Homo sapiens: one gene and its partners. The protein of the gene in region 3 interacts with the protein of the main gene of each other region in a biochemical or structural test. Each region holds a gene or a part of one and is shown on either strand. Other genes may lie near its edges.

What was found.
Region 1: the proteins of KDM3A (region 3) and ETV2 form a complex in vitro, tested with the Homo sapiens proteins (one study listed by BioGRID).
Region 2: the proteins of KDM3A (region 3) and MRTFA form a complex in vitro, tested with the Homo sapiens proteins (one study listed by BioGRID).

The regions. Positions count from the first base shown.
Region 1 is NC_000019.10:35,637,211-35,644,744, forward strand, and holds the start of ETV2 (ETS translocation variant 2), read left to right. Parts: upstream 1-4,534; 5' UTR 4,535-4,946; intron 4,947-5,223; 5' UTR 5,224-5,250; coding exon 5,251-5,320; coding exon of another isoform or gene 5,321-5,404; coding exon 5,405-5,488; intron 5,489-5,738; exon of another isoform or gene 5,739-5,754; coding exon 5,755-5,835; intron 5,836-6,063; coding exon 6,064-6,543; intron 6,544-7,024; coding exon 7,025-7,137; intron 7,138-7,441; coding exon 7,442-7,534. Other genes in the region: RBM42 (RNA-binding protein 42), read left to right, coding at 1-142, 232-344.
Region 2 is NC_000022.11:40,530,787-40,538,047, forward strand, and holds the start of MRTFA (myocardin-related transcription factor A), read right to left. Parts: upstream 3,042-7,261; 5' UTR 2,850-3,041; coding exon 2,804-2,849; intron 1-2,803. UniProt on the Homo sapiens protein: Transcription coactivator that associates with the serum response factor (SRF) transcription factor to control expression of genes regulating the cytoskeleton during development, morphogenesis and cell migration.
Region 3 is NC_000002.12:86,486,305-86,493,255, reverse strand, and holds the end of KDM3A (lysine-specific demethylase 3A), read right to left. Parts: intron 3,939-6,951; coding exon 3,819-3,938; intron 3,737-3,818; coding exon 3,597-3,736; intron 2,376-3,596; coding exon 2,199-2,375; intron 2,116-2,198; coding exon 1,981-2,115; intron 1,218-1,980; coding exon 1,137-1,217; 3' UTR 540-1,136; downstream 1-539. UniProt on the Homo sapiens protein: Histone demethylase that specifically demethylates 'Lys-9' of histone H3, thereby playing a central role in histone code.

The DNA of each region.
Region 1 (7,534 bases), on a different chromosome or scaffold from region 3:
TTGGCACGCGCCTTCAGCCGCTTCCCATCCTTCCTTAAGGCCAAGGTGATCCGTGACAAGCGCACAGGCAAGACCAAGGGCTACGGCTTCGTCAGCTTCAAGGACCCCAGCGACTACGTGCGCGCCATGCGTGAGATGAATGGTGGGTGCGGCCTCCCCTGGGAACTGCAGGCGCGGCAGGCGCTGGCCTAAGCCTGACCCGAGCCTGCCTTGAACCCTCTGTCTCCACAGGGAAGTATGTGGGCTCGCGCCCCATCAAGCTTCGCAAGAGCATGTGGAAGGACCGGAATCTGGACGTGGTCCGCAAGAAGCAGAAGGAAAAGAAGAAGCTGGGCCTGAGATAGGGTCTGTGGCCAGGCACCCGCTCCCACCTGGCCGGGCGCTGGCTCCTCCCTCAGTTCTCTTTGGAAAACCCCCAGCTGTCCACCCATCCCCTGCCCCAAAACCAGTTTCAATAAATTTACGTTCATTTCCACCCCTGGCTGGGCATGGAAGCACGCTGTGGGGAGCAGGGCTTGGCTTCCCCACAGCTGGAAATGGCGGGGAGCCTTGAGAGTTTACCCAGGCAAACACCCAGGCGGGGGCTTCTGAGCCCTTCCTGCGCACCCATTCCCTCTTCAAACCTCTTCCACACATGCTGAGTGCTGCTTATTCCAGAGGAGAAAGGGGGGCCAATGGCAAGGGTGAAGCCAAGCTGAGGCCCATCCCCGTGTCCTGGCTACTTCCTGTGTTCTCAGCACCAAGGTAGGAGATCTAGGCCCTTCCCTTCTGGAGCTCACAGGCTTCTAGGCCCTCTTCCATCCAGCAGACTCTCACCAAGGGTCTGAACAGTGCTTGAGGACACAATGGTGACTAAAAGTCCTGGGCCCTGCACCGTTAGAGCTCAAGGTCCAGTGCAGAAAATAGGCCCGGTGCCCTGACGATAAGAGCCCAGAGTGGTCAGGGCAGGATGGGGGCGCTGACCTGTGGGTGAGGGGGCCCTTCCTGAAGGAACCGTCCACCCCCAAGTCTCCTCTGGGGCTTTCCAGCTTCTCCAGTCTGCCATGCCCAGCCAGCTCACCATGCTCTAAGTCTCGGTGGGCACCTCTATCTCTGTCTCTGTGGGTACCCCTCCATTTCTTGTCTCTAAGCTTCTATATCCCTGTTGGTCTCTGTTCTCTCCCTTGGAGCTGGGAAATGAAAAAGGAGGAGAGACCCACAGATAGAGAGAACAGAGACTTGGGGTCTGTTCCCCTCTCTTCCCAGCTCCAAGCTGGCCTCTGCCTGTCTGAAGAGGTGTCTGTGCAGGGCCTTGAATGCCAGGCTGAGGGCTTAAGCTTTACGCAGAAGGCAGCAGCAAGCCCCAAAAAGCTGAGAAAATTCAAGCAGCAGCAAGGTCCTGGGCAGCACAGATGTGCGCTGTAGAAAGGGCCCTGTGACCGGCTGGGTGCGGTGGCGCACGCCTGTAATCCCAGCACTTTGGGAGGCAGGCAGATCACTTGAGGTCACGAGTTCGAGACCAGCCTGGCCAACATAGTGAAACCCTGTGCCTACTGAAAAATACAAAAATTAGTTGGGCGTGGTGGCGGGCACATGTAGTCCCAGCTACTTGGGAGGGCTGAGGCAGGAGAATCGCTTGAACCTGGTAAAAGGAGGTTGCAGTGAGCTGAGATCGCGCCACTGCACTCCAGCCTTAGTGACAGAGTGAGATTCTGTCTCAAAAAAAAAAAAAAAAAAACGCCCTGCGACCACCACTGTGGCTGGAAGTCTAGAAGGCTGGGGCAGGGACTGGGCCAGAGGAGGGAGATGGCAGGTTTGAGTATGGGGAGGAGTGGAGGGTCTCCCAGGGACACAGCCATCGGAACCCTCCATTAGGAGGGAGCAGGTTGGGCAGGACTTTGTGGGGCATAAGTCGGGGGATGGACAATACCAAGGCCTCTCAGGGACCGAGGTCCCCCAGGAGAGGTGTCGAATTTCTCCTGTTCCTGTCTTCCCCGCCTTACTGCCCCCTCTCTGACGTCACATTTTCCAGTCTGGTCAGAGGGTGAGAGCCTCCCTGGCAGGAAGTGCCCTTTAGCCCCCTGCCACCTGGGCCAGACCACCCAGCCCCAGGATCCTCAAAGCCCCTTCCCCCCATCACTAGTCTTTTCTACCCCTGACCCCCCTTGTACTGACAGCAAGCATAGGGTCACGGGAGGAGATGGGAAGAGAGGATGGCTCCAGAAAGGACGCTTCCAAATGCATGTGATTCTCACTTCCAAGTGGGAGCAGAACAGCAGGTACACGTGGACATGCAGAGTGGGGTAACAGGCACTGCAGACTCCAAAAGGTGGGAGCGTGGGGGAAGCTGAACAGTTACCAGTTGGGTACGTTGCTCACCATTCGGGTGCACTAAAGGCCCAGGCCAGTATACTGGATATACTGACATATATCCAGTAAGGAATCTGCACTTGTACCCCCTAAATGTTTATCTTTTTTTTTAATGCACACAAGTCTTCCTGAGAACAAGAAGAGACACACACACATAGAATGTGGCAAGCAGAGGTAGAGATGGCGCTGTGAGCAGGAGGCTCAGAGGCAGAGATGAGAACCATCAGAGACTGTGCAGTGGGAAGGGGGACGGGGAGAAAACCAAGAGACAGATGGAGACGGACAAGGAGATGAGATAGGAACACTCAAAGACAGATGGGGAGGGACAGAGATGTCAGAAGAGACCAGGTGACAAAGCCTCACTGGAGTCAGGCCCGTGGCAACAGAGACCCAGCTTTAGATATGCCAACCTGAAGAAAGAGGGCAGAGAGACATGGAGAGACAGACAAGAGGCCAGCTTCAAGGATGGGAAGCCAGGACTCCCTTCAGGCCTCCGCGCTGGACGGATAGAGGGACCAGTGATGCTCCAGGGCTCTGTGGCTTACCCCACACTGATTCCAATCCCAGTCCCACTCCCACTCCATGGGACCCCCGGTTTACTTTACTGTAAAATGGAAGGAGGAGCAATGCCACCCGCTCTCCAGAACGGCAAGTAGTTAATGATCAAGAGGCTGGGCTGGGGACTGGAAGATGCCGATATGCAAAAGTTATTTTTAATGGTAAATATTACATACTTATTAAAATACAGCAGGATGGCTGGGCACGGTGGTGGCTCATGCTTCTAATTACAGCACTAAGGCTAAGGCAGGTGGATAGCTTGAGGCCAGGAGTTTGAGACCAGCCTGGCCAACATGGCAAAACCCCATCTCTACTAAAAATGCAAAAATTAGCCTAGGCATGGTGGCTCACGCCTGTAATCCCAGCACTTTGGGAGACCGAGGCAAGTGGATCACTTGAGGTCAGGAGTTCGAGACCAGCCTGGCCAACATGGCAAAACCCCATCTCTACTAAAAATGCAAAAAATTAGCCGGGCATGGTGGTGCTTGCCTGTAATCCCAGCTACTTGGAAGGCTGAGGCACCAGAATTGCTTGAACCCGGGAGGCAGAGGTTGCAGTGAGCTGAGATCGCACCACTGCACTCCAGCCTGGGCGACAGAGTGAGACTCCATCTCGAAAAATATTTTATATATATATAGGACACCCAGTTATTGAATTTTACGTGAACAATTTTATAGTTTAGGTATGTCCTAAATATTTCATGTATGTATGTATATGTTACATGTATAGCTGTGGTTTTTTGTTGTTTTTTGCTGAATTATTTGAGCAAGTTACAGACTTTTTTTTTGTTGTTTCTTTTTTTGAGATGAAGTTTCGCTCTTGTTCCCCAGGCTGGAGTGCAATGGCATGATCTTGGCTCACTGCAACCTCCATCTCCCTGGTTCAAGCAATTCTCCTGCCTCAGCCTCCCGAGTAGCTGGGATTACAAGCACCCGCCACCACGCCTGGCTAATTTTTTGTATTTTTAGTAGAGACAGGGTTTCACCATGTTGGACAGGCTGATCTAGAACTCCTGACCTCAGATGATCCACCCGCCTCAGCCTCCCAAAGTGCTGGGATTACAGGCGTGAATCACCGCGCCCAACCACAAGTTACAGACATTATAACATTTCATCTCTGAGTTCATTTTCTAAATGATATCTTTCCTCCTGAATACCATTATCAAATCTAAGAAAAGAATTCTATGATATTTCATATTCAGTTCATACTCCAGTTTCCCCAATTGTCCTAAACTATTACAGCGCGGAAGGGCATGGGGTCTGGAGAAGGAGAGCAGTGGGAGGATGCCTGCCTTACCTTCCCCCTTCATCAAATGAGAGTATGTATTGTACTTGCCTCATAGAAGGATTCAATGAAGGGGTATGGCACAGTTGGTTTCACACAATGAGCCCTCATTTAATGTTGGCCGTTATTGCTACTATTGTTATTGTTGAAATTGTTGATGTCAATATTGCTATGATTGGCACTCCTGGGAAGCAGCCCCAGGACGCCCTCCCTACTGGGCCTGGTGGAGGATTGGGTGGGCCTTCACTCCTGCTCCACGCCCCCGCAGTTACTCTGCCGATTGTGACGTCAGCTGACGCTGGGGGCGGGTGGGGGAATCTGGCCGGAAATCCCTCTTCCTGTTGCAGATAAGCCCAGCTTAGCCCAGCTGACCCCAGACCCTCTCCCCTCACTCCCCCCATGTCGCAGGATCGAGACCCTGAGGCAGACAGCCCGTTCACCAAGCCCCCCGCCCCGCCCCCATCACCCCGTAAACTTCTCCCAGCCTCCGCCCTGCCCTCACCCAGCCCGCTGTTCCCCAAGCCTCGCTCCAAGCCCACGCCACCCCTGCAGCAGGGCAGCCCCAGAGGCCAGCACCTATCCCCGAGGCTGGGGTCGAGGCTCGGCCCCGCCCCTGCCTCTGCAACTTGAGCCTGGCTGCGACCCCTGCTCTGACGTCTCGGAAAATTCCCCCTTGCCCAGGCCCTTGGGGGAGGGGGTGCATGGTATGAAATGGGGCTGAGACCCCCGGCTGGGGGCAGAGGAACCCGCCAGAGGTGAGCGATGAACTGAGGACTAGATGCCTGGGTGTCTGGGTTAGGAAGGACCTGGGGGACTAGACTCCCAAGAAGCCGGGGGCCTGGACTCCTGGGTCTAACAGAGGAAGAGAGCTGGGGTCCCTCACTCCCAGGACCAAGATTTTAGGCTCCTGGGGAAGGAGGGAGCGGAGGCCTGGACTCCTGGCTCTGAGGGAAGCTAGGGCTGGGGCCCAGACTCCAGGGCCTCCAAGTGTCACCAGCTCACCCATTGCCATCTGGACTTTTCCCGACCCAGAACATTCAGAAGGCCTTCATCGCATCCATGGACCTGTGGAACTGGGATGAGGCATCCCCACAGGAAGTGCCTCCAGGGAACAAGCTGGCAGGGCTTGGTAGGCTGCCGAGGCTGCCACAACGTGTGTGGGGAGGGTGTCCAGGTGGGGCCTCTGCTGACCCTAACCCCTTATCGCCTGCAGAAGGAGCCAAATTAGGCTTCTGTTTCCCTGATCTGGCACTCCAAGGGGACACGCCGACAGCGACAGCAGAGACATGCTGGAAAGGTGGCTGCGGGCTGGGACCCCTAAGTGCTGGAGAAGAAGCGGGGAGGCTGGGATCCTAGGGCAAAGGGAGGAGGGGGGCGTGCCTAGGTTCCTGGGACTGGGTGGGGAGGGGCCGCGTGCTTGACCCCTGAGGGTGAAGGAAAAGGGGGCGCGGGGTGCTGAAATACGGGCTGGGGGGCCATAACTCCCAGTCCCTGACAAGTAGAGACTAGAGAGTGGGTAGTTGAGGGGTCTCTTTCATTGCTCACAGTCCTCCCTAAACTCAGGTACAAGCTCATCCCTGGCAAGCTTCCCACAGCTGGACTGGGGCTCCGCGTTACTGCACCCAGAAGTTCCATGGGGGGCGGGTGAGTGTGGGGAGAGGCGGTGGGAGGTGGGGACTGGGGTCCCGAGGCACCGGGGCTAGAGGTGTAGACTCCCTGATCTTTGAGGACTGAGAACACCTGCGCCCTCAAGGTGGCATGACCTGGATCCGGGTCAGCCGGGCCCCAAGTGCCAGGGTTGAGAGCTTAGACCCTAGAGTTTTTGAGGGGGCACCTGGGCTCCCCTCACTCGGGATCCGTTACTCCTCACAGAGCCCGACTCTCAGGCTCTTCCGTGGTCCGGGGACTGGACAGACATGGCGTGCACAGCCTGGGACTCTTGGAGCGGCGCCTCGCAGACCCTGGGCCCCGCCCCTCTCGGCCCGGGCCCCATCCCCGCCGCCGGCTCCGAAGGCGCCGCGGGCCAGAACTGCGTCCCCGTGGCGGGAGAGGCCACCTCGTGGTCGCGCGCCCAGGCCGCCGGGAGCAACACCAGCTGGGACTGTTCTGTGGGGCCCGACGGCGATACCTACTGGGGCAGTGGCCTGGGCGGGGAGCCGCGCACGGACTGTACCATTTCGTGGGGCGGGCCCGCGGGCCCGGACTGTACCACCTCCTGGAACCCGGGGCTGCATGCGGGTGGCACCACCTCTTTGAAGCGGTACCAGAGCTCAGCTCTCACCGTTTGCTCCGAACCGAGCCCGCAGTCGGACCGTGCCAGTTTGGCTCGATGCCCCAAAACTAACCACCGAGGTGAGAGGGCCGCAAAGACTGCGGGGAGGGCGAAGCTGGAGTCCTGAGCCGGGACCCAGGCACCTAAGGGGGCGGGGCCCGGGAGACTGACAGTGAGGGGGCGGGGGCTTAGGGACCAGGGGCTCGAAGGAGGGGCCGGTGGCCCGCACTCCAGGTCCTTGGGGAGGAGAGGGCTAAGAAACTGGTAGTCTTATAGGGACCAAGGGGATGAGGACCCAGGCTCCTGGATTATATAAAACGAAAGCGATAAAGGCCCAGATTCCTGGGTCTCCGAGATGGGGAGGCCAAACTCCTAAATCTCTGAGACTGGGGCCCTGGACGCTTGAGTCTCCAAGGCTGACTGTTGGATCTCAGAGAAGGGGGGGCGGATCCCCTTCTCGGGTCCTGGGTCCCGAGTTGGGAGGACCCGGACCTCTAGATCATTGAAGTGGTGTGATCTAGGGCCGGGAAGACTGAGTGTGCCCCTCCCTTCATCCCGCAGGTCCCATTCAGCTGTGGCAGTTCCTCCTGGAGCTGCTCCACGACGGGGCGCGTAGCAGCTGCATCCGTTGGACTGGCAACAGCCGCGAGTTCCAGCTGTGCGACCCCAAAGAGGTGGGGCAGCTCCCCTGCCCAGCCAAATCCGCCCCGTCTCTTCTAGTTCAATTTAGCTCCGCCCAAGGGCTAGGTTCAACCGCGTAGCCCTCGGCCCCGCCGCTCCCCGGCCCACTCGAGGCCCCGCCCAACCCTTCTCAAACCCAATCTCCCGCCTGTACTCCTGCCTCAACCAACCCAGTCTCCACCGGGCTCTGCGAGGCCTCGCCCAGGTCTGCACTGCACACCGCCCCCAGGCCCGGCCCTCCCCACTATCGCCAAGCCCCGCCCCTTCCCACTCCGACCGAGCGGGCCTCTGTCCTAGGTGGCTCGGCTGTGGGGCGAGCGCAAGAGAAAGCCGGGCATGAATTACGAGAAGCTGAGCCGGGGCCTTCGCTACTACTATCGCCGCGACATC
Region 2 (7,261 bases), on a different chromosome or scaffold from region 3:
CAACATCTGCTTTGGACAAGGATTGGCTAAAATACAGGATGGTGGGTAGAAGATTCATTTCTTAATATAAGAACAGATCTCAAAATACTTCGATAAAATCTTGATTTAAAAGCTTATACTTATCAGGGAAAGTATGACAATCCAAATTTCATCACTCTCATTCATTCAAAAATACTAAGTACCATGTGCCAGTATCAGAAGCCAATATATAGATTAATATATTGCCCTTGAGAAGCTAATAATCTAATTAGGAAGACATATACATCTGGCTGGTTCCAAAGGACCAGTAAGAGACCACCAGCAGTGAGGAGGATGAAAGTTTTATTTTTTGAGACAGAATCTTGCTCTGTCGCCCCAGTTGGAGTAGAATGGCATGATCATAGCTTGTTGCAGCCTCGACCTCCTGGGCTCAATCGATCCTCCCACCTCAGCTTCCCAAGTAGCTCTGACTACAGGTGGGCACCATCATACCTGGCTTTTTTTTTTTTTTTTTTTTTTTAATTTTTTGTAGAGATGGGTCTTGAACTCTTGGGCTTAAGCGATCCTCCTGCCTCAGCCTCCTGAAGTGTTGGGATTACAGGTGTGAGCCACCATGCCAGGCCTGAAAGTTTGTATATAACATACATGAACATGTCTCACCAAAACCCCCAAGCTCCAAATATTCAAATGAAAATTGTTCATAAATATAAAACATACCCTGGAACTTTGCTATCATATTCAATATCCTGAAGTTTTATTTAGGGTAAAACTTTCCATCCTGAATTCTGTCAACAAGGTTTAGTTACTTTAAAACTCTCATTAAATAGCAGTCTCACCTATAAAGCATATATTCATATAGGTTAAAATATTCTATTGCTAGAAAACCTATGGCTCATGTTTATCTACTGATAAAGCCCAAAAGTCTTGACTTTTCAGAGAATGGCTTTTAGTTCACTGAGGCTTCATAACAGATGCTTTTTCATTTCCTATCATAAAGAGAGACAGTATTTTACTATACAGCTGTCATATTACTGTTACAATCCAGCTAATGGCTACAGCACTTCAGAACAAAACAGTAGCAATTTTACAAAACCAACACATTGTTAATGTTTTTGATCATATAGGAGACAGGTACTGGAGATATCAGTTTGCTATTACCCTTTCTATATCCAGAGTCTCTCCACTTTTACGAACATAAACAAAAGAAAGAAGTCCACATACACGCTACAGCAGACCCTTCATTCTACCTGCATCCAACACTCTTGTCAATTTCATTTCACCTACTATCATCCTTTGAAAGTTTTATGAAGTAGCTGGTCCAACAGATGGGTGGCTAGCCCTGCCCAACACATGACGAAGGAAAAACAGCTCTTAGCAAGCAAGACAAGAAAATATTAAGTATGTCCCTTTCCCTCTCAAGGCTGAGAACACTGAGACTACCTGAGAAGAAAGCAAACAATCTTTTAACCTTTATAAAGAAAAGTTACTGGACTGAGATGATCTGTAAGTAACAAGGTGATTTTAAAAAGGGAGAGAGTTCAAATGCTAAAATCTACCCCTCAAGATAAAACAGGCACTTGCCCACACATAGCAGAGAACTGGAATAGACAGGAAAAATAAATAAATCCAAATTAGTTTAACTGGGAGCTTTTTCATCAAAGACAGATGGGAAACATTCAGATAAGCACACTATCTTGTTTAGAACACAAAGCTCAATAGATCTGTAGGAGGAAAAGGAAAGGCAACCTGAAACACATAGCCTATATGCATAAAAAATGACTCATTATGGTCATATTAGTAAAACCAGAAAGAACAAAATGGTAGTGGTATCTGTCTTCTTTGCCCCTTCCCTGATCATAAGCTTTATTAACCAGATAGCATCTGATCCTGTCTTCAACTGATGTATATCTGTCTTTCAACATACTACCTAAAATGCTCCCCAAGGAAAACAGTGAGACCAATTCTGCCAGAGACAGTATCTGCCAGAACCAAGAAGTCTTATTTTCCTTTGAGTGAAAGCCAGTGGATGGGGAAGAGGTCCCCAAATGCCACTTGTCTGAATCTTTTAAGATATGCTCTGAAACAAGAAAACACTACAGATTACATTTTAGTAGAGATCTAAAAATAGCAAAAGAACATTCCCTATTTTTAGATATCTGACTTCCAAGTGTAAAAACACTAAAAGTAAAAGAAACCACTGAAAACTAACTATATTTTTAAAAGGGTTTTAAAAACTCTGAATTGGAAAACTGTTTTTAGAGATAAAATTTCAAAAATCCTCCCCTGTGTTGACTGACTCTTTGCTCAAACTTACCCATCTCCAAAATTTAGTCCTAATCCTATGTGTTATTAAGGGCATTTCCACAGAACCAAAAGATGGTACAGAAAGGTTATACCACAAACAAGAAAGAACAGCTAAGAAAAAAAATTTAAAGATGCTTTCATAAAAACATAGAGTCTAGACTAGTGATTAAAGACAACAATGTATAAAACAGCAAAGCAATTTAATTGTCTTTCATTTAAAACAGTGCCACAGACAATACAACACTTGATTAAAGAAGACAAAGAGTTTTTTTTCTCAAACAGGTCTCCGCAACTGAATAATCTTAAAACCAGTAACCATCTAATTCAAAGCTGTCAGAATAACTAGAATTTGCAATGAGAGAAAAATTAATAAAAAACTGAAAATGCAGTACATTTCTTCCTCCCCATTTCTGTCCACTCCTAGTACAAATATGACCCATTTTTTTTAAAGAAGCCTGTGGCAAATAAGATTTGTAGGAAATTATTAGCAAGTTAGGAAATTAGGATTTATGTGAATTACCTGACTGTACTGCCATCATTAACATCTCAGGTTCCAGTAGAGTCATGACGGATTCTTCCAGAAACAAAAATCCACAAATATAATGAAGAAAGTCAAAGTCACAGGAGAAAAGCTGTCTTGAAAGCTTTCACAAATTCAATCTGATGCCTTATGCTCAAATCAGACTGTGAGAATATCCCCTTCTCAGTGCAGTTACCAATTTATCCACCCTTCAGGCGAGTCAAGATGACACAGATTTGAATTACTGCCGACAGGAAACCAAAAAGCTCTCCAGTTAAGACATACTAAGTGTGGTTAGAACAGTGAGCAAGCTCCTCCCCTTGCTATTCGTCTCTGGGGGAGGGGAGAGACATATATAAAGAGACTTTCAGAAAACAGATCAACTGCTTTTTTCCTCTCAAGAAGAGAAGATGAGGTTTTGTTCAAAATCCCACTATAAGAGACTGCTGTTAATGCAGTTTAGTGGAACAGATTAAACACAATCCAAACAACTCAAGCTCATGAAAGAAGCAGTCCAATTACTGACCCATTGATGAGAGGTGGGGAAGAAGATTAAACACATATAAACACATATATACAAAATGTAAGCTCCATAAATTTTCTGAAAAAGAATTCCAACGGCTTTTTTATATGTGGTATTTATAGATAACAGGCTAAGGAAGTTGAACATTTAACTACAGAAGCTCAACTATTTCTCCACCCCCACTCCAATTAAAATATCTGTTTCAAAAAGTCATCTGAATACATTCCAGAGCTGTAATCTGTCTTTCAGATCTGTCAGTCCCCTAAAAGAGCCTCTTACTTGTGCCTATATTAGACATACGGTCTGTGAATAGACAGTATACTGATGTTATTTGATTTCATTTACTTTTTTTGTATGTTTGAGACAGGGTCTCACTCCGTTGCCCAGACTGGAATGCAGTGGTGCAAATGTGGCTTACTGCAACCTCGACCTTCCAGGCTCAAGTGCTCCTCCCACCTCAGCCTCCTGAGTAGCTGGTCTCAAACTCCTAGGCTCAAGCGATCTGCCCACCTTAGCCTCACAAAGTGCTGGGATTACAGGCATGAGCCACTGCTCCCCACAGCACCTTTCATTAACTGATATTCATAACAATGATATTAAGATTACTTTCAGTCTATCTGACTGAATTTTTTAAAGTTGGAAACTAAGAATCCATGTTTGGTGTGTTTATCTAGAATTCTTCAATCTTTCTCGTTAACTATCAGCCTGTATGTGAAAGCTGGCTGCTGCCAATAGCCCAGCGAATACCTTAATGCTTACATAGTAAACAAATGGTAAATAAAAGCAGTAGGAGACCTTAAGAGAGAAAATAGTCTCAGAATGACTGAAGGCAATATTTTGTTATTAGTAAAGAGAAGCAATGCAAATTTGGGGTGAGGGAGACTCAGTACAAGAGAGAAAAACTTCCTTCCTTTCTCACTCCAAGAACATCATGTTTAAAAGAAAAGCCAGAAAAGCTCTATATAGAACTGTGGGAATGACTCAACAGGCAATGAGTAGCAGCCAGTGTGGGCTAAATGCTGCTCTGGGAAAGCAGAAGCATCTCACTGGCCCCTTCTGGCAACCAAATTTTCAAACTGACTTAGGAAAAACGGGTAAATTTCAACTTTGAGTCTACATGACAGTCTGGTCAAAGGTTAGCAACTAAGGGAAAAGCATCCCTAAAAGGTTGAGAAGATTGAGTCATTCCTTGGTCCTTATGTGGGCTGTATAATTTGCTGTGTGAGAGGTTTTTTCTTTTTTTTTTTTTTTTTCTTTTTGAGACTAGGTCTCACTCTGTCCCCCAGACTGAGTACAATGGCATGATCTCAGGTCACTGCAGCCTCAACCTCCCAAGTTCAAGCGATCCTCCTACCTCAGCCTCCCAAGTAGCTGGGACTACAGGCATATGCCACCACACCCAGCTAACTTTTGTATTTTTAGTAAAGATGGGGTTTCACCATGTTGCCCAGGCTGGTCTCGAACTCCTAAGCTCAAGTGATCCCCCTGCCTCAGCTACCCAAAGTGTTGGGATTACAGGCCTGAACCACCACACCTGGTCTTTGTTAAATTTACTTTGTCTCTCTAGTAATGAGGGTTTTCAAATGAAACAAGTTTTCACAGTTCGGTATTTACAGGAAAATAAATATAAACTTTAAGATTCCTGCACAGAAGATGGTAGGAAGGGCAGAGGGCTGGCTGTCTCCCTCCTGCCAAAACTGTTCGCCATAGAAGAGAGCATGTAATGCCACAGTGTCAATACTCCAGCACCACAGGAGATATTGAGAGTCATGTGATAGGAATAACAAATAAACATAACATCTCAGTTGATTTGACTTTTTCTTAGCAATTCCACACCCACTATCTCACTGGCACTTTGAGGTAAAAAGACCTAAATAAAAGAAAAACAATTTTTTAAACAGTAATCTTTAAAAAATTAAACAAGAAGCACTTACTTTCGTAGGCCAAACGGGAGGGTGGGTTGAAACTAGAAGTTAGAGACCAGGTTGGGCAACATGGCAAGACCCCATCTCTACCAAAAAAAAAAAAAAGAAAAAGAAAAAAAGCCAGGTATGGTGATGCCTGTCTGTAGTCCCAGCTACTTGGGAGGTTGAGGCAGGAGGATCACTTGGGCCCAGGAGTTCCAGGCTACAGTGAGCTGTGATCACCCCACTAAACTCCAGCCTGGGCAACAGAGCAAGACCCTGTCTCAATAAATAAATAAATGGGCCGAAGCCGCCGCCGCCCGACCGCCGGGAGGATGGAGTTCAGCGGGCAGCGGAGCTGTCTCAGTCTTTGCCGCGGCGCCGGCGAGCGCCGCCCGGGAGGCAGCGGCTGGAGGAGCGGACGGGCCCCGCGGGGCCCGAGGGCAAGGAGCAGCCGCCTGCCTTGGCCTCCCAAAGTGCCGAGATTGCAGCCTCTGCCCGGCCGCCACCCCGTCTGGGAAGTGAGGAGTGTCTCTGCCTGGCCGCCCATCGTCTGGGATGTGAGGAGCCCCTCTGCCTGGCTGCCCAGTCTGGAAAGTGAGGAGCGTCTCCGCCCGGCCGCCATCCCATCTAGGAAGTGAGGAGCGCCTCTTCCCAGCCGCCATCACATCTAGGAAGTGAGGAGCGTCTCTGCCCGGCCGCCCATCGTCTGAGATGTGGGGAGCGCCTCTGCCCCGCCGCCCCATCTGGGATGTGAGGAGCGCCTCTGCCCGGCCGAGACCCCGTCTGGGAGGTGAGGAGCGTCTCTGCCCGGCCGCCCCGTCTGAGAAGTGAGGAGACCCTCTGCCTGGCAACCACCCCGTCTGAGAAGTGAGGAGCCCCTCCGCCCGGCAGCCGCCCCGTCTGAGAAGTGAGGAGCCTCTCCACCCGGCAGCCACCCCATCTGGGAAGTGAGGAGCGTCTCCGCCCGGCAGCCACCCCGTCCGGGAGGGAGGTGGGGGGGGGTCAGCCCCCCCGCCCGGCCAGCCGCCCCGTCCGGGAGGAGGTGGGGGGTCAGTCCCCCGCCTGGCCAGCCGTGCCGTCCGGGAGGGAGGTGGGGGGGTCAGCCCCCCGCCCGGCCAGCCGCCACGTCCGGGAGGTGAGGGGCGCCTCTGCCCGGCCGCCCCTACTGGGAAGTGAGGAGCCCCTCAGCCCGGCCAGCCACCCCGTCCGGGAGGGAGGTGGGGGGGTCAGCCCTCCGCCCGGCCAGCCGCCCCGTCTGGGAGGTGAGGGGCGCCTCTGCCCGGCCGCCCCTACTGGGAAGTGAGGAGCCCCTCTGCCCGGCCAGCCGCCCCGTCCGGGAGGGAGGTGGGGGGGTCAGCCCCCCGCCCGGCCAGCCGCCCTGTCCGGGAGGGAGGTGGGGGGGTCAGCCCTCCGCTGGGCCAGCCGCCCCGTCTGGGAGGTGAGGGGCGCCTCTGCCCGGCCGCCCCTACTGGGAAGTGAGGAGCCCCTCTGCCCGGCCAGCCGCCCCGTCCGGGAGGGAGGTGGGGGGGTCAGCCCCCCGCCCGGCCAGCCGCCCTGTCCGGGAGGGAGGTGGGGGGGTCAGCCCTCCGCTGGGCCAGCCGCCCCGTCTGGGAGGTGAGGGGCGCCTCTGCCCGGCCGCCCCTACTGGGAAGTGAGGAGCCCCTCAGCCCGGCCAGCCACCCCGTCCGGGAGGGAGATGGGGGGGTCAGCCCCCCCACCCGGCCAGTCACCCCGTCCGGGAGGGAGGTGGGGGGGTCAGCCCCCCGCCTGGCCAGCCGCCCCGTCCGGGAGGGAGGTGGGGGGGTCAGCCCTCCGCCCGGCCAGCCGCCCCGTCTGGGAGGTGAGGGGCGCCTCTGCCCGGCCGCCCCTACTGGGAAGTGAGGAGCCCCTCTGCCCGGCCAGCCGCCCCGTCCGGGAGGGAGGTGGGGGGGTCAGCCCCCCGCCCGGCCAGCCGCCCCGTCCGGGAGGTGAGGGGCGCCTCTGCCCGGCCGCCCCTACTGGGAAGTGAGGAGCCCCTCTGCCCGGCCA
Region 3 (6,951 bases):
CTCACAAATTAAAACTCAGGTTCTAGGCTTTGTCTATGTACTATCTGATTTCTATGTTTAATTCCTTTTTTTAAAGAAATTAAATGAAAGAGTGGCCTAGGAGAATCAGTGGGCTAAAGAAAGGCGCTTCTTTGTGAATTTTTTTCCTTCACAGAGATGAATATTTTAGGTAGTACTGTCCTAGAACTTATAATTTCATTTTCCTTCATAAACTTAACATTATGAAGGGCCATAAAACAAAGTGTTTCATTACTTACCTTTTTAGAACCATTTAGCCTGGCACTATTTGGTTTCTTGGTTAATTCCTGTTTCTAAATTTAATTAATTGGTGGTGTTTCCTTGACAAAGTGTGACAGGGTTTCTACCTGGCTGAGCAGAAATTTCCATGTTAGCTTTGTAATAATCACTAAGAAAATCACTATAGCATCTGATTTCTTTGCTTTTAAGAAGAGTTCTTGGAGCAATCCATTACACCTGCATTTGAAGAAAGTTGTGTTGAAACCACAATGAGAGGATAATGCCAATAAACTGAGCCAAAATATTATATGAATATTTTAATGCAAAATGCTTAACACTTAAAATTAGCAAAGCGTCATTTAAATTAAAATTCCATTTAACTAAAGATGGTTAACCCCAAGAAATTGTACAGTAGTTGATTTCTGCTATATAATGCCAGTCCTATGCCATACAATAAGAACTGCAACATTAGCTGTCACTTCCTCCATTGCTCTTCTGGACCCTAAGGGATGAGGGAGGGGACTCAGACACAAAACACAACCCAAATAAACTGTGCAGTGATTCCTAATAGTTATAAACCCAATCTAAGTTGTCCAAACAGCTGAAGAATAACTGCAGGTATTGTTCCAGAGCTGATACGAGGTTTTGCTTTTACAGCCTGGTAAAAGTTCTGCACTAGGTGAGAAGTCACAGTTTAAGGATGCATGTTCTGTAAATAGTTACTACATATACACATTTACTGTCTGTAAACACTAGAAATATACATTAGACAGAGTACCCTCACAAGTTGGGTACAGTTTAAAAAAGAAGATGAGGTAACATGAATCTCAAAGTCCACAGGAATCCTGCCTGAAGAGTTTGAACAGCTGCCTGTAATTCATTTCCAATGTGCAGGGAGATTAAGGTTTGCCAAAACTGGATTCACTGGCTTTCAGCATAGCAACTGCATCTTTCACTGCATGGTAGATAACATTCTTCACCTAAAAATAGTAGGAGAAAATATGGGCATTTTACATTTAAATCTAAAACCTGTCACTAAGAATAAGCTTCCTCCTACTAATTTTATTACCTTCTCTCAGAATTTAAAATTCAATATTCGTATGAAATGTCAACATTGCAAAAGGTCCCTGGGCTCCTTCAGACCAGTATTTCACATACATTTTAAACCCATGATTTCAAGAACTCATTTTCCCCCTTTTAGAGGTTTTGATACCACGTAGACCTACTCACAGTGAGTACAGGGAGAGGCAAGTTCCAAGGTACAGCTTTTATCATTTTTCCCTTATTTTCCAAACATGAAATTATGTTACATAATTCATTACTGAAATCCTTTTGAAAATACCACCCCCTCAGACCTCTTTGAGTCTCAGAGATTCAGTTCTGCTCTACCTAAGAGTGATGAGAACACTGCAGCACTGAAGGTTAAGCACTGTGTTCAAGACCCCGACAGGCAGCTGGGCCAAGATCAGAAGTCACATCTATTCATTTTCAGTACTAAGGCCTTTCTCTGTGGGGACAGTCCCTTATAGATTCTAAACAATATCAAATCAAACCAAGGTGAGATTTCCTCTTGTTCCTCCCTCACTTAAGTAGATAGTAGTACTAGATATAAAGCAAGTTCCTCGACTCACTGTGTACTAAGTACGATATGGCCAAGTTCACTGACTCTCTTTATAAGGTGAAGAATGGGCCATGAAGCCATAGCCATAGCCAAAGAATGCTAGGAATTGGTGCTATTTTTACCTGTAATTTATCTTCGTGATTGGTATGAGTCTGTGACAGATATCGGAATTCCTGAGTAAGCCAGAAGCAGTGTTTAACATGCTCTGGAGAAACAAAATCTTCAGCCACTTTGATGCAGCTATATAAGTTATGAACCTGAAAAACACCAAGTAATATATCAGTAACAAACCCAAAAGTTCATGACATAAAGAGATTAAAGAAAAAGTAATGATTCTTGCCTGATGTGGAGCTCCTGCCGGGATAAACACCACATCCCCAAGAAACTGTACAATAGCCCAGCCTTGAACTCCATACTCTTGATGAAGACGTTTTCTTAATGATCGGTCTAAATACCAGCTTTGATCATGAATAGGATCGTGGTCTGCTGGGTTTTCTTGACCTTGCTCTTCTGATACCTAGAATACATTCAAAATATTATGCAACTCAGTAACATGCTAAGGCCCAATAAGCCATTTTTTTCCTCTAAACAGTGTTGGCAGTTCATAAATGTCAGGCCTTCTTCAACTTAAGTGCCCCCATTGGCAGAAGACGACTAGTAGTATCAAAGACTTCAGCTGAATGAACCAACAGAAGAATGACGAAGAAAATGTGATGTCAGTTCCCATAAACCATGACTGACAGGCTCTGCATAAGTTTGTAAATACTGTATTTAAACAATATTTTAGTCTAGATTTTTAAACATAAGTAGGCTCAGTATCCTTATAAATGAACTTGTTTTAAAGTTATTAGAAACCTGCCTTTACTTAATCTGACTTACGAAACAGTCCCAAAGACAGCTGCAGATTAGACTTGTTTATCCTTGATCCAGTAACTGGTAAAGCAGAGACTCAGAGTGACAATATCAAAAGAACAATATGGTGACCAAGCCGGTTTTCTGGAAGAGCCAAATGATCCTTAGCCAGAAACACTTTGATTCAAACAAATGCTTGTTAAAGACATACTTGGGGCCAGCTAACAGGTTACGAATGTTCATATCCAAGACTCATGAATGACTGAAGAATATCAGCCAAAGACACCTGAGTTGCAACCGGCAGCCTCAGTGCCAAACAATTTTAAAACTGAACACGACTCATCTTTCTAGTTGCCTAGAATTTCCACACATAGCCCTTGCTGAAAAAAAAACCTGCCAACTACAGGGGAAACCTAGAATCTTCCAAATCCCTGCAACCCTTGCTAGTAACAAGTAGGACCACTTGCTACATGACAGTGGACAAAACCAAACTTAGCAACTCACTCAGAACATGGTCACTCAGGGCCAAGGATACATGAACGTCTGAAGTGCTCAGATTCTCAAGGCAATAAAAACAGATATATGCTGGGAGATGATCAGATGAACTAACTTCTAACTTGAAAGCAGAGAACAAAAATCTCTAAATGCACTCTAACACAAAACACAGACATAAAAGACAAGGCCTGCTTTTTTTAGAAGTGTAACCCTAATCATTTAGAATCCTTGTTCCTTAGCAACCACCTTCAGCCTATTCAATCTGACAGGTACAGATTTAACTTTTCAGGTTGTGACAATTCCCCTAGCCAAGCCAGTCAGTTCACCACATGTAGTAACATAATATTGCTATTCCTTATGCCTCTGTTCACACATGCCATAAGCAGCACACCTTTTTAAGAAATTCCCTTATCTTCTCCGTGTCCTTTGCAGCATATATGTGCCACAGTGCTCCTGGCTTCTCTTTTCCTTCAATAAATCGCTTTATTGTGAGTTCGTCAGAATCTCCATCTTGGATGGTCTTAAGGACTTCTAGAGCAAGAAGAGAAAGCAGATATCAGACCACAAGCCCTGGCTCAAAGAGTAAGCCCTCCTTTTATGCTCAGCACCCTACCTTCTTCTTGCTCACACTGTCCTTTGGGAATTCCCACATAGACCATGACATTAGCTGCATCAGATACATCTAAGTGAAGATTTGTTGTTCCATATTTCCGATCTTCAGGAGTGATTAATCCTGCAAAAACAAAGTGCCTTAAGTTTTACAAAAGACAACAAAGGCTGCCACAGTCTTTCCACTACCTACCTGGGGGATGGTAGGTCCCTGATTGACTCTTCTGCTGAGAATAAAAATTCTGGATCAAATTATTGCAAAAAAATTCTTTAACCAATCGATGTGCTAGCAAGAAAAGAAGGAATACTCAGAAGCCAAAAACAGCAGGAAATGGAAGTGGTTAAAGCAGGCTTCCGAAGCTGGGATTTGCCAAAAGGACATCTGCTAGATCAAGTGAGCTCAGGCTTTGATTGTTGCCACAGCCTAGGAGTTCTGGGGCAAGAGACAAAGCCCAAGGACCACTCGAGATGGGGAGTCCAAGGGAAAGCACCCACCCACACACACACATAAACCTGGAACGTCAAATGGCTATCATGAGTATAAGAAGGAATACTGCCCAACGCATTCCTTGGTTCTCTCAACTGTAAAAGAGGAGGGGTGAGGAGTGAGCCAGAAAGACAGGTCCCCCACAGTGTTCAGTCTGTGGCTAATTCCTTGCTCACAGGAGAAAGCTCACCTTGCTCAACAATCATCCTGAAGCTTACCCTGCAGTCACTTTGGGCAACCCATTGTAACACCAGGACTCTGCTTCTTAGACTGGGCAGTAGGGAGAAGCACAGCTTGTAGTGAGCAAGCAGCGGCTGTTTTCTAACCTGCCAGCCTCTGAAAACGCCCCATAATACTGTTTTGGAGGAAGGCTTTATCTCTGGCTTGCCTGGGGCTTTGGTTTTAGAGGGGCTATACTTTTGAGAGGGCACATTTCTTCACTCCAGCTTGGGACCAGGGCCCCCAGAGCCCTGTTGTACTTTCCTTTCTTTCCAGCTTGCTGAAATATCAGTCCTGGGAGTAGGTAAAGCGTTTGGTATTAGGGTGAAATCATAGGATAGTTGAGAGGATGATGAAAAAACATAAAGAGAGAAGACAATGAAACGATTATGGCAAAAAGTTAAAAGCTGTTATATAACTGGGTGATGAGTTATATGGAGTCACTACCAGACTCTCAAGTTTTCACTGTATTTGAAAAATAGTTCCATAGTAAAAAGCAAAATTTCAGAAAAAAGCAATTAATGTAATAGAAATAAAATGAATGAAATGAACACATGGATGATATATGACAGCATGGATGAATATAAAAAATCTGATTCTATTTATATGAAGTTCAAAAGCAGGCTAAAAACTGAAAGAATATTGTGCAGGAATACAAATATATATGTTAAAATTGTAAATATAAGCAAACGATAAACACAAACTTGAAGATGGTGGTTAGACTAAGGGCAATAGGAAGAGGATGGAGCTGGCAAGAAAAGTAAGGAAAGGAGACTAGGAGGCAAAGCCTCAGCAGGACTGGCTGCCTGCTGATCCAGCCAGTGCCACAGTGCAAAACGAGCAAGGAAATAACTGCTGCCCAGCCACTGGCCCAAAGTCCACTGGATCCCAGTCATGGGTAACTGTACATTGATAAAACCAGACTCTAAACCATGGTAAACTGAGATGAAACCAAAATTGTAAAAACATAATGGTCAAAGGGAAAGGAGTGCTAGACAACAAAACATCCTGAAACAAAACACCATGGACTTTTAAGGGGGAAAAAAAGCTGAAACAGTAGGGGCTGTTGGGTGATGGGGAGTTAAGAGTGGGGGAAGAGTAGGGAAATGGGCTCTAGCTTGGAAATCAGGAGATCTAAGTACTAGTTTCAGACCTGCCACTAGCTGCCCCTTGGAGATCCTGAACAAGTCAATGCCCCTTCTACTGTCCGCAAGTCCTGGTCCTCATTTGCAAAATGGGGGGTGTTGCAGGAACTGAAGAGAGGCTGGATTATATGATCTCTCCAAAGAGCCTTTGCACTTACTCTCATGGAAGAGTCACAGCTCAATCACACAACCTTTGAAAAGACCACTCTTTAATGATGTTTACAATAAGATATAAGGTGTTTGAAAATGAACACATCATTATTTTCATCCTTCTGAATGCTTGCTTCTGGATGGGAACCATTTTGTCATAGGAAAAGCTTTTATAGAGTAACACTGCCATCTATTAGTGTCTAGGGGGAAAGACCCGCTGCCAAGCTAGTTAAACCACGCAAGCAATTCTTTTGAAAATTTCTCAGATACCCACCTTTAAAGCTTCAGGATTTCTATAAAGCATGGATAAACTATACAATTTATTGGAAAAATGCTCTTATATACTTAAGTTTGCCCAAGATCCCAACCATGCAGCTGCTTTAATCAGTCTCTGAGGGGCTCGAGGGACAGGACCTCGAGAGAGCACACTGCAGACCCACAGCACATGGAGGACTCACCAACAGAGACCTGAGAAGTGAGGAACAGGCAAGAGGCCTTGTGCCCACCGGGTCTTCTCACCCACACACAATTTCTCTGGTACCCCTACCCTGGCAGAACTATCTTGGGCATGGAGACTGCTGGGAGCTTGCACACAAAAACACTCCCCTGTCACAACAGTCCCCAACTACACTCCTAGTGGTTCCCTGAGCTGACTCAACCGTAACAGAATTGTGGGGCTGGAGTCCTTGCCCCTCCTTCCCTTCCCTCCCCCAACAGTCTTTGGAGAACATAGCGAAGACAACAACAGACCTTGTCCTTTTTGAGAAAGACACCCACAGGTCTAAGGCTAGAAATGGAAAATGACATGGAAGTAATTATGGCAGGAAGAAATAAGTAATTTCCAGGAGGACTGGAAAAGTAGGGGCCAAATAGTAAAAATGAGTAAATAAAATTCACTGAAATATTCAAACAACTAGAACTGCATTCAACAATACATACTTCCTTCAAAATGGCCAACTCGAATCCAGCCCTAATTAAAGGCCATGTGTAAAACTGACGAAGATCTCAGTTATAATGATGATGAAAGAAAGCTCTGGTAAATGGAGAAACCAATCTTTATCCCAGGCATCCTCCTTGTTAGACAGTGAGTATTGAGTCATGTCAAAAGAATAAAAGTCCAACTCAAAGGGTACTTT